Homo sapiens: one gene and its partner. The protein of the gene in region 2 purifies or fractionates together with the protein of the main gene of each other region. This does not show direct contact. Each region holds a gene or a part of one and is shown on either strand. Other genes may lie near its edges.

The links. The genes of interacting proteins can lie anywhere in the genome.
Region 1: the proteins of ZNF492 (region 2) and PPM1H purify together in Homo sapiens (affinity purification with mass spectrometry; one large-scale study listed by BioGRID and IntAct). This does not show direct contact.

The regions. Positions count from the first base shown.
Region 1 is NC_000012.12:62,928,048-62,933,388, forward strand, and holds part of PPM1H (protein phosphatase 1H), read right to left. Parts: intron 1-5,341. UniProt on the Homo sapiens protein: Dephosphorylates CDKN1B at 'Thr-187', thus removing a signal for proteasomal degradation.
Region 2 is NC_000019.10:22,650,543-22,655,937, forward strand, and holds part of ZNF492 (zinc finger protein 492), read left to right. Parts: intron 1-2,764; 5' UTR 2,765-2,857; coding exon 2,858-2,891; intron 2,892-3,377; coding exon 3,378-3,473; intron 3,474-5,395. UniProt on the Homo sapiens protein: May be involved in transcriptional regulation.

The DNA.
Region 1 (5,341 bases), on a different chromosome or scaffold from region 2:
GAACAAATAACTTACCTACGTTGCATTCATCTCATTAAATCCTTATACATAAAGTGCTTAATAGAGAACCTACACACAGGACTAGCTCAACAAATGACTATTGCATTTAGCAATTTTTAATGCCTCTAATAAAGTATAAATAGGGATAATCCTATCACTATATGGTATATGGGAGATGGGCCAAACAAATCAAATGCTATACCGTTCTTAAGCTAATAATTTGCAAAGTATCTACTGTAGTACCAAACTGGAAAGCTAGTGAAAACCACTTATCTAAAAAAACAACTTGGGAAAGGCTCCTCAACTCTTTGCCATAACATTATGTTGTATAATTAGGTTCAATCCTGCATCTTTTGCACCATAATTAAGGGCATCTGCTCTCCTTACATGGTCAGTAGGAAACACAGTCAATTATGGAGGGTCACAGAAGTAATGCAGATAAGTCAGAATGAAAATCACAGTTAAATAACTGCAGTCCCACCTACTCTCTCCCCCTTCTCCCCCATCTGCAAGGATGACAAAGATTCTCTCCTCCACCAAACTTGAGTCAGGCCTCTCTTCTCTACTAAGTCACAACGTTGGCGCCAATCCTGTTCCTTAAGCAAGAATCCTGTTAAGTCAGGTTAGCAAGAATCCCCCAAACTTGATACCTGCTCAAGTTCCTCATTCCCCACCTTTGATGTTACAAGTCTTTGGTCTGCTTTCAGCAAGAATCCTGCTAGGTCAGTTGAGTTTGGTTTAATGTCCCCGCTGAGTAACTTTCCATTCCACTGACCCCTCACACTCTACTCTTTGCCTACAAGTACCAGCTGTCAACGTGGTATTGAGCTGGGTTGTTTTCCTATATTGCAACAGACTTGAGTAAAGTCTTCCCCAGCATTGTAACAAGTGTCAGAATAATTTTTTTTCTCTAACAGCAGGGAAGGTCTTGGGCCTTCAGGTACAAAGCTAATCATAAGCTGGTTGGAAAAAACAAGTTTGCTTCCCTAATGTGACTTAAAGGCTCCAAATACTGAGATTTAAAATTACCCAGAAGCATTAAGACATTAAAATCAAAACAAAACTCCTGGTGCTGGTCCCTTTGAACCTTAATAGTCTATTTCATTTTAATTTAATTTCAAAGAAAGTACAAAAGGGGAAAGATTATGCTATAAAATTTTCTTGAGGATAATGACTATGTCTTATTATATTATGAATCCAGCATGGGACCAATGCTGGACACATAGTAGGAGTGCAATGATTTCATCAATTGAGAGAAATAATGGAAGCAGATGAATGATTATTTCCTGAAAAATGATAGCAAAAATTCAAGGGGACAAGCTAACTAATCCTCCCTTTAAATTAGGCAAATCACAGAACTATAAAGGCACCAGAGTTTATTTCTACCAAACATTGAGAATTAAAAATAACTCTTGAACATTAATGTATTTTTAGACAACAATTCCAGTATGCAGTTTTACATTTTCAACTAGTACTGCTGTAACCTTAATTGAAAGCACTGTATAGTGGGGTCATAGCAGAGATGCGGATGTCTACCTAAACTGGGACTGAAACATATAGTAAACACCCCCCTGCATGGTTAAACCCTTTGCCTGAAGCATCACCAGTCCTTGAAAGAAGCTGATGCATTTTCCTAAGAAAAGAGACATCCCCAGGAGCTCCACCTAAGGGGGATGATTTCTTTATAATGCTATATCTGAAATATGAAGGAACGCTTAGCTGTCTGCTTTAAAATAGGAAATTAATACCTTTTGCAAGTCACCAGAAAGGTAGCTGAAATAGCTCAGGCTACTCTGGACTTGTAACTCATCTGCAGATACCCTCACCCACTCCTTTTTATCCTTACATAAGAGTAGAGAACCTCAAGTTTCTTCAGTTGCAAAAGTCAAACAGGAAGTTTCCAAGCAGGAGTTCTGCAAAGAGGTATCAGTCAGTAAGAGGGGCAGGTATGCCAGGAAAAGTTAGAAGGGAAAAAGAAAGGCCAGGGGATTTCCGAGCTTTGGGGCAAGAAAGAAATAGCGGTTTTTGTGTCTTCACCACCACCCAGCCAACTAATGCCATTTATTGGTAATAAGCAATTAGTGCCAATGACCAAGGAGACAGACAGCCTGCAGAGTCCAAAACAAATCCAAATACCTGTAGGCAGCTGGCTGGATTTAAATAAGGTTATTCCATCAAAAATTTCATAATTTTCAACTCTGTGAGACATACACTTATATGATATACATTTAACAGACACTCTCAAAGTAGCTTTTGTTTCTACTTATGTCCAGGGGTACTTTTATAAGAAATAGGAAAAAAAATTTATAGTTATAGCTATAACCGAAGTAAAATTAGCTATACTTAATGTATTCTTTCTGTACAAGTAAACAAATGTATCACTGATAAAAACCTGAATATGATGCATTAACATACACAATATTGTTGCTCAAAACCACAACACATTCTTTGGCATTCCCTACGTCTGTAGTTTCAGGCACAAATTCCATGCCTGCTGGCATCTCTAAGACCAACTGTTTCATCAACAGGATAAAAATCGGGCAAACAGGTAAAAAAAGAAAAAAAGCCAAAATGGGTTCCCAACCCATTATAAAAATGAACCAACCTCCACTTGGGTGGTATTTGAGAGAAAGGAAGTAGCTGCCGCCTGGTCTCTGGGTCAGACTGTTGCTCCCCAAGGGCTTTATCAAATGAGCAAACCAAACAGGCTCAGCCACTGATTTCAAAGCCAAACTTAAAACTTGCTAATGCATGTTTTTAGAAAGATTTTAGCTTAGTAGATGTTATCTATAACTACAATGCTTTACAGAGCTTTACAACCTTGCAAATACCCCTTAGCCAAGTGGCTAAACTTTTCAGCTGTAATAGGAAGCTTTTCAAGAGCTGGGAAATTCCATCTAGGACAATGCCAATGAATACTGAAATGAACGAAAATCTTCAGTTTCTGCAACCTCAAGTCTAGCAGGGATTGCTTACGGCTAATTCTCTAGTTCTATAGCCTATAGAGTCTCTCTTCTTGAAAGGGATTAACAGTAAGTGGCAAAAGATTAGACCATTTCTCCTTAATTTTTCTACCATCTCAAAGGGTCAGTCATCAACATTAACTCATTGACCAAAAGATGTCAATTTTTCCTCCCAAGGAAGGCTTGGAACGTGACTCACTTTCTAGAGAGGTAAACAGATCACTTCTGATTCAGGCATTAGCTCCTTAGTACAGTTCTTATCACCACAATTTGAGCAATCTTCCTACCTATTCAACCCCTCTCAGGTACCTTCTAGTACAAAGAGAACAGAATTTCTTCTCCCAGTAAATCCTGTAGGAAAGGGCAGCATTACTGGTGGCAGCTTCTGATCACAGCCACAGTCCCTACTTGTCTTTCTCTTTCCTTCCCTATTTCAGCCATTTTGATCATTCAGGATGCATTTTTGCAGGAAGATAAACTAACAGTTCAAGATATAAGGAAGCGGTACAGTATATTATCTGACAGGGTTAAAGGTGAGAAGAGAGAGATGGCCAAGACTTTAGTGGCTATTCCTGGGTACAGATGAATACATCATAATTTAATCTACTGTAGAGAACGAGTTTGGTGTTGCGAGCTCTGGAGTCAGACTGCCTGGGTTCACACACAGGCTTGACCCTGGGCAAGTTGCTTAATCACTCAGTGCTTCTGTATTCTCAACTATAATATGGAAATGATAGTGCCTACCTCATTAGGCTTTTATGAAAATCAGATGATATAAAACAGTATAAGCACTAAAGAGTAAGCATTAACTATGTTAGCCATTACCAATAGTATATATTTAAGAAGAATGAGGTAATTCTGTGTTTACTTATGAATACTGTTAATGACATAGTGTTTTGTGAAAATGCTACAGAATAATATGCTTAGTATGAGTCTATTTTGAGAAGAAAAAAGAAACGCATGATATGTATTTATGAGGGCATCCAAAGAAGTCTGAAAGCCAAATATCACCCAAACATTGAACCCTCATTACTCCTAGGGAGTAGGTGAGGGCTGGGGAAGAGGGGCTGACTTTTTTTTTTTTTTTTTAAATAGGTCTTTGCTTGAATTATCACACATGTATTATTTTTGCCACTAACTTTAAAATTTGTAACATTTTACAGTGGCCTTCCTAGGCTTCAAGTTGAATATCTCTCATGTTTTATTCTAGGAAAAAAAAATTAACTTTTTAGGGATGCGGAAATGGAGGCCCAGAGAGGATGGGGGGAGCCCTCTAAGCACTCTCTCATGCGTGTCTCATTGCATCCTGTGCCTACCATAGGCATGCAAACACTCTGAAATTCGTTCTTTCCTTTCCCTCATGCTTATCTGAGGCTTTCCTTTTACTGTGTCCAAACGGCTTCCACCTTCAGTGTTTCAGTATCTTCTTTCCTACCTCTCATAACTTTCTCACCATTGCCTGCTTTTCCTTCTCGCCTTGACAGGCGCCCTCGCCCTGGGAAACTCACTGGAGTGGGGACAGATCTCAGGCGTTTGGCAGTCACAAGGACCCCCATCTACACAATTATACCACAGGGTATGCCTCCAAGTTGCTGTCTCGTAAAGGGTCCAAATGGGCTTTTTTTTTTTTTTTTTTTTTTTGAGAAGGAGTTTCGCTCTTGTTGCCCAGGCTGGAGTGCAATGGCGCGATCTTGGCTCACTGCCATCTCTGCCTCCCGGGTTCAAGCGATTCTCCCGCCTCAGCCTCCCGAGTAGCTGGGATTACAGGCATGCGCCACCACGCCCGGCTAATTTTTGTATTTTTAGTAGAGACAGGGTTTCTCCATGTTATTCAGGCTGGTCTCGAACTCCTGACCTCACGTGATCCGCCCGCCTCGGCCTCCCAAAGTGCTGCGATTACAGGCGTGAACCACCGCGCCCGGCCTAAATGGGCTTTTAAATAACGTTTTTATTTCAGTCAAGAAATAGTGTTTGGTATGTTTGGCAGGCTCTTTTTTCTCCTTTAGGTCTTTCCTTACACAGGTGTTTATTTTTGCTTTGGCTTTCTCTTGGAAGTTACAATGCTATTTTGTACCTTCGCCACCCACAACGTTCTCTTCCGTGCTCATCTTTTATGATGTGTTAATTTTTACTGTCTGAGCTCCCATCAAAGCGCATTTCTGCCTCCTCACTTTCACACTCCAATCGTCTAGCCCCATTTATACACGTTTTCCATTTCAGCCCATGGAGAAACGCTTTATAGGATGATGGGAGAAGGAAAGGAGAATTAGAGATAATAAGCAGAGCAGATTCCAAGCAGTCTCTCCCACCGGAACCCTTAGGGTCGGGAACCAAGCCTGCCCCGGGGTATCCGGGCCACCAGAACAGGGTCAGCATCA
Region 2 (5,395 bases):
GAAACTGCAGTCACCTCTCCCCCTAGGGACTCAGGCCCAGGGAGATCAGAGTTCTGTCCCTGAGCCCCTGGCTGGAGTTGTTGGAGTTCCTGCAGAGTGGCCCCACACAGTGAGGAGGGATGTGTCAGGGTCAGGCCTGAAGAGGAGCTGTAGCTGCAGTCTGGCACAGCCAGTGTGTTAGGCTGTGGGGGACACCTCTTGGGACCAAGCCGTCCAGCATCCCTGGCTCCAGCAGGGGAAAAGCATGGCCAGGAGCTATAGAGATGACTGCCGCCCTTCCCCTGCCCAGGGAGCCTAGTGTGTTAGGCAGCTGTCAGTCCCAGTGCTGGTTGCTGCCCCTCCCCCAGGGAGCTCAAATGGCTTAAACAGCAGGCAGCCATAGCTGTAGTGCTGGTCACCCCTCCCCTGGGAACTCAGCAGGCTTAAGCAGATTTTAGCTGAGAGGCTGTTGAGAATCTGCACAGCTCTGGGGTTGGGATCCTAGGCCCCAGTGGCATGGGTTCACGAGTGAAATCTTTCAGTCTATGGGTTGCACAATTCCATGGAAAAGGCATGGTTTTGTCGGCTAAGTAGCACATTCATTCACCGCCTCCCTTGGCTGGGGGGTGGGGGCTCCCCTGCCCCGTGTGGCTCTCAGGTGGGTTGCTGCACCACACTGCTCTTTCTTCCTCTCTGTGGGTCATGCCAGCTGCCTAGTCAGTTCTGATGAGAGAACCTGGATACCTCAGGTGCCAGTGCAGGATTCACAGGCCATTATGGTTCTTTTCGGTGGGAGTCTCTGATCACCGCTGCTTCTAGTTGGCCATCTTTGCCCTGCCCCTAAAAAATGGCTTTTTTTTCTTTTTAAGCTAAACATGTCTCAGATGAAGAACTGTGTCCACTCTGCCTCCTGGAATGCCATGTGTTCAGTACTTGCAAAGCTTTACTTTTCTACTTGTGCTTTTTCTTCCTAATGAGTTTAACTACTTTTTAGTTCTTATAATAGTCAAAGGTCTCTGAAAAATATTTCTTTCCTACATACCAGAGTCTTCTCTACATTCTCAACATCATGGCTTCTTACATGTCATCAAGAATTCTCACCATGAATTTATGAACTGCAATATTAAGAATGTTTCCTTCGTGGCTATGGAACATGGGAAGGTGTAGATACTCAAGATTCCTATTGGGGAAAAGCTGGGGTCCTTAATAAAGATGGAGAGCATGTAATTTTGAGGTTCCATCTCTGTTCTCCATTAGCTGTAAACAAATAAGATTAAGAAAATGCTTATTTAAATGGGATGGCATTTATTACGCAGAAAGTTTAAAAATAATAATAATTAGGAGATACTTGCTCTTTAGGGTGTGAAAGAAAGACTACTTAAAATCACTATTAAAATTTACAGAACATGGCAGATATTGGTATCTGGAACTTTACATAAAACCAGTGTTTCTTTATGATTAAATTCAGACTATAATTTACTTTTGGCTGGGCAATATCATAGCAGTGATGCCGTGTCCTTCTGTGTGCATCAGCACATTTGTCTTCATGCACTTGATGTTAATAACTCACTTGATTAATGAACTCTGTGACAGATTTTTTTCTATAGAGTTAATTATTTTTCTCTTCATTACTGAGTATCTTTATTCAGCAGATGTGCATAAACAATCACATTTAATCTGGCAGCTGACCTTTCTTAGGCTTTTTTTTTTTTTTTTTGAGACGGAGTCTCGCTCTGTCGCCCAGGCCGGACTGCGGACTGCAGTGGCGCAATCTCGGCTCACTGCAAGCTCCGCTTCCCGGGTTCACGCCATTCTCCTGCCTCAGACTCCCGAGTAGCTGGGACTACAGGCGCCCGCCACCTTAGGTTTTCTTTGCATTTATCTGTCTTTGGAAAATGAAAGCTCTCATCTTTGTTTACAGGCCAGAAAAACTGAAAAACACACAGGCTTTTCCACTTACTGGATGTTTGACAAAATAGTTTTCTTGGACCAAAAACATGGGCATTACTGGTGAGCTTGTTAGAGATTCAGAAACTCAGATTTTATTCCAAATTTTCTTTTCTTTTTTTTTTTTTTGAGACGGAGTCTCGCTCTGTCACCCAGGCTGGAGTGCAGTGGCGCGATTTCAGCTCACTGCAAGCTCCGCCTCTGGGGTTCATGCCATTCTCCTGCCTCAGCCTCCCGAGTAGCTGGGACTACGGGCTCTCGCCTCCACGCCCGGCTAATTTTTTGTATTTTTAGTAGAGACAGGGTTTCACCGTGTTAGCCAGGATAGTCTCGGTCTCCTGACCTCGTGATCCACCCGCCTTAGCCTCCCAAAGTGCTGGGATTACAGGCGTGAGCCATCGCTCCCAGCCCAGATTTTCTGAAAAAATAATCTGCATTAACAAGATCTCCAGTTTATTGTACACATTAACATGTGAGCAGTATTTTCTAACTGAATATGTCTTTTCCATCTGAAAAATTTACACAACTTATTCTGTATGATGTAAATGTAGCACTCAAAAATGTACATGTTAGTGTTAATGCCCTCAATTTTATACTTCATCATCCGAAGAAGTATCATACTTACCTCGATGTTGTGGATCTTATGCCACTCTCTTTTCTCAGAGTTAGAGAATGCATTAGAGAATATACTTCTGTGCTGAAAGTTATTTATTAAATATATCAGTCACTCCTATAAGTAAGAACCAGTTCTCTTTACTCTTGTTTTACCTTGAGTCAAATTAAAAATTCTGTTCATGGCCACTTGGTAAATATGTATGTGTGTTTGTATGTTTTTCAGGGAGTGTTGACATTTAGGGATGTGGCCATAGAATTCTCTCTGGAGGAGTGGCAATGCCTGGACACCGCACAGCAGAATTTATATAGGAATGTGATGTTAGAGAACTACAGAAACCTGGTCTTCGTGGGTGAGGATAACTTCAATATACAATTCCCTAATATACCCTATAAATTTTATTTCTCTTTTTTGTAGAATGGTTTTTGGTAATTTATGCTTTCAGATCTCTGTTTTTTGTTTTTAACTTCAAGATTTGTCTATGTAGAAAAGAATTTCAAGATGTTTCATTTTGACCTGAACTTTCCACACTCCTGAGCTGATCTGTGTTCTTCACTCTAGATTAGTGTTAATTTTAGAAATTTAGTGGCATAACGTACTGTTGCCCACATCTTAAAATCTAATTGCCACTACCAGTTTTTGATTTAGTAGTATCAGGTAGTGAAATTAAGAACTTACAAAATTAAAATATTTCCTAAATATTTAAAATTTTTTGTTGTGTATTAGTATTTTGGAATCAATTTACTAGAATATTCTATTACATCCTTTTTTCTGAACACACTACTAAATTGGTAATTGGAGAATATGAGCAAGATTCATGTTATTTGTAATAAAACAGGTATTGCTGCCTCTAAGCCAGACCTGATCACCTGTCTGGAGCAAGGAAAAGAACCTTGGAATGTGAAGAGACATGAGATGGTAGCTGAACCCCCAGGTAGGTGAGAGTGAAAGTGAATACAACAGATGACACAGATGAGAGCTCCAAAGTAGAAAAAAAAAAAAGCCAGTCCTTAAAATGATTTGAAATCTGTGTTCCAAAGGAAATAGTTTCTGGGAAGCCTGAATTTTTTAAATTTTGCTTTCACATAGAAGCATCTTCTGTCTTATATTTTTAAAATCTCTGAAGATTTTACTTTCCCTTTGGTGATCTTCTTCAAGTTTACAGTGACAGCCAAGACAGCCCTCTTCATGGCACATAAGAGACTGTGAAATCTGACTTTTTCACTGTTTTTGAAAACACGTAGATAATCTGCATAATTTTGAGAAACTCTATGTTAAACTGTTTTTCAAGTTCTGTTTTTACATTATGTCCTAAATGTGTGAGAGCAGTGGTTTCTGTTCCATTGGTTTCTTTATTGCTAATTTTTCTGCACATTGCATTCTGTCTTATTATAGTCTTGAAGTATAGTTTGAAATTATAAAGTATGATGTTCTTCTGCTTTGTCCTTTTTTTTTCAAGATTGCTTTGGCTATTCAAAGTTTATTGTAAGTCTATGTGAGAATTGTATTTTCTTTTTCTCTTTCTTTTTTTTTTTTTTGAGATAGAGTCTCGCTCTGTCACCCAGGCTGGAGTGCAGTGTCATCATCTCGGCTAACTGCAACCTCTGCCTCCTGGGTTCAAGCGATTCTTCTGCCTCAGCCTCCTGAGTAGCTGGGAATACAGGCGCGAGCCACCATGCCTGACTAATTTTTGTATTTTTAGTAGAGATGGGGTGTCACCATATTGGCCAGGCTGGTCTCGAACTCCTAGACCTCGTGATCCGCCCACCTCGGCCTCCCAGAGTGCTAGAATTACAGGCGTGACCCACCGTGCCTGACTGAGAATTGTATTTTCTATTGCTGTAAAAAAAAAATACTGGAATTTTGATAGAGAATTTATTGAATCTAGAGAGCACTGTAGATAACACGGCACTTTAATAATATTCTTTCAGCCGGGCATGGTGGCTCACGCCTGTAATCCCTGCACTTTGGGAGGCCGAGGCAGGCGGATCACCTGAGGTCAGGAGTTTGAGACCAGCCTGGCCAACATGATGAAACCCTGTCTCTACTAAAAATACAAAAAATTAGTCAGGCGTGGTGACAGGCGCCTGTAATTCCAGCTACTTGGGAGGCTGAGGCGGAAGAATCGCTTGAACCTGGTAGGCAGAGGTTGCAGTGAGCTGAGATTGCACCACTACACTCCAATGTGGGCAACAAGAGTGAAACTCCATCTCAAAAAAAAAAAAATTCTTTCAATCAATAGACATGAAATGTTTTTAAATTTATTTTTGTCTTCTCCAATTTTTTTTTATTGATGTATCTTTTATTTGAAAGATATTTAAGCTCCTTGGTTAAATTTGTTCTCAGAAATTTATTATTTTAGTGCTATTGTAAATAAGATTGCTTTCTGTCTCTTTTTTGTCAGATAGTTTGTTTAAAGTGTATGGAACCATAACTTACACTTGTATGTTAATTTTCTATTTTGCTAAATTATTGAGTGTAATTATTACTTTAATTAGGTTTTAAATGTACTGTTTATGGTTTTCTATATACAAGATCAAATGATCTACAAAAAGCAACTTTTTACTTATTTGTCTTCAATTTCAGTGACTTAATTTTTTTTTTTTTTTTTTTACTTATTCCACATACTTCCAGTGCTGTGTTAAAATAGAAGCGTTGAGAATGGGCATAATAAACTTTTGCATTGGTGTCTGTGAGTTTGAAGGAGCAAACACCTCTTCAAGTTTTTCTTGTTGTTTTTTTTTTTTTTTTTTTTTTTTTTGAGACAGCGTCTCACTCTGTCGCTGAGACTGGAGTGCAGTGGCGCGGCCTCGGCTCACTGCAACCTCCACCTCCCAGGTTCAAGTGATTCTCCTG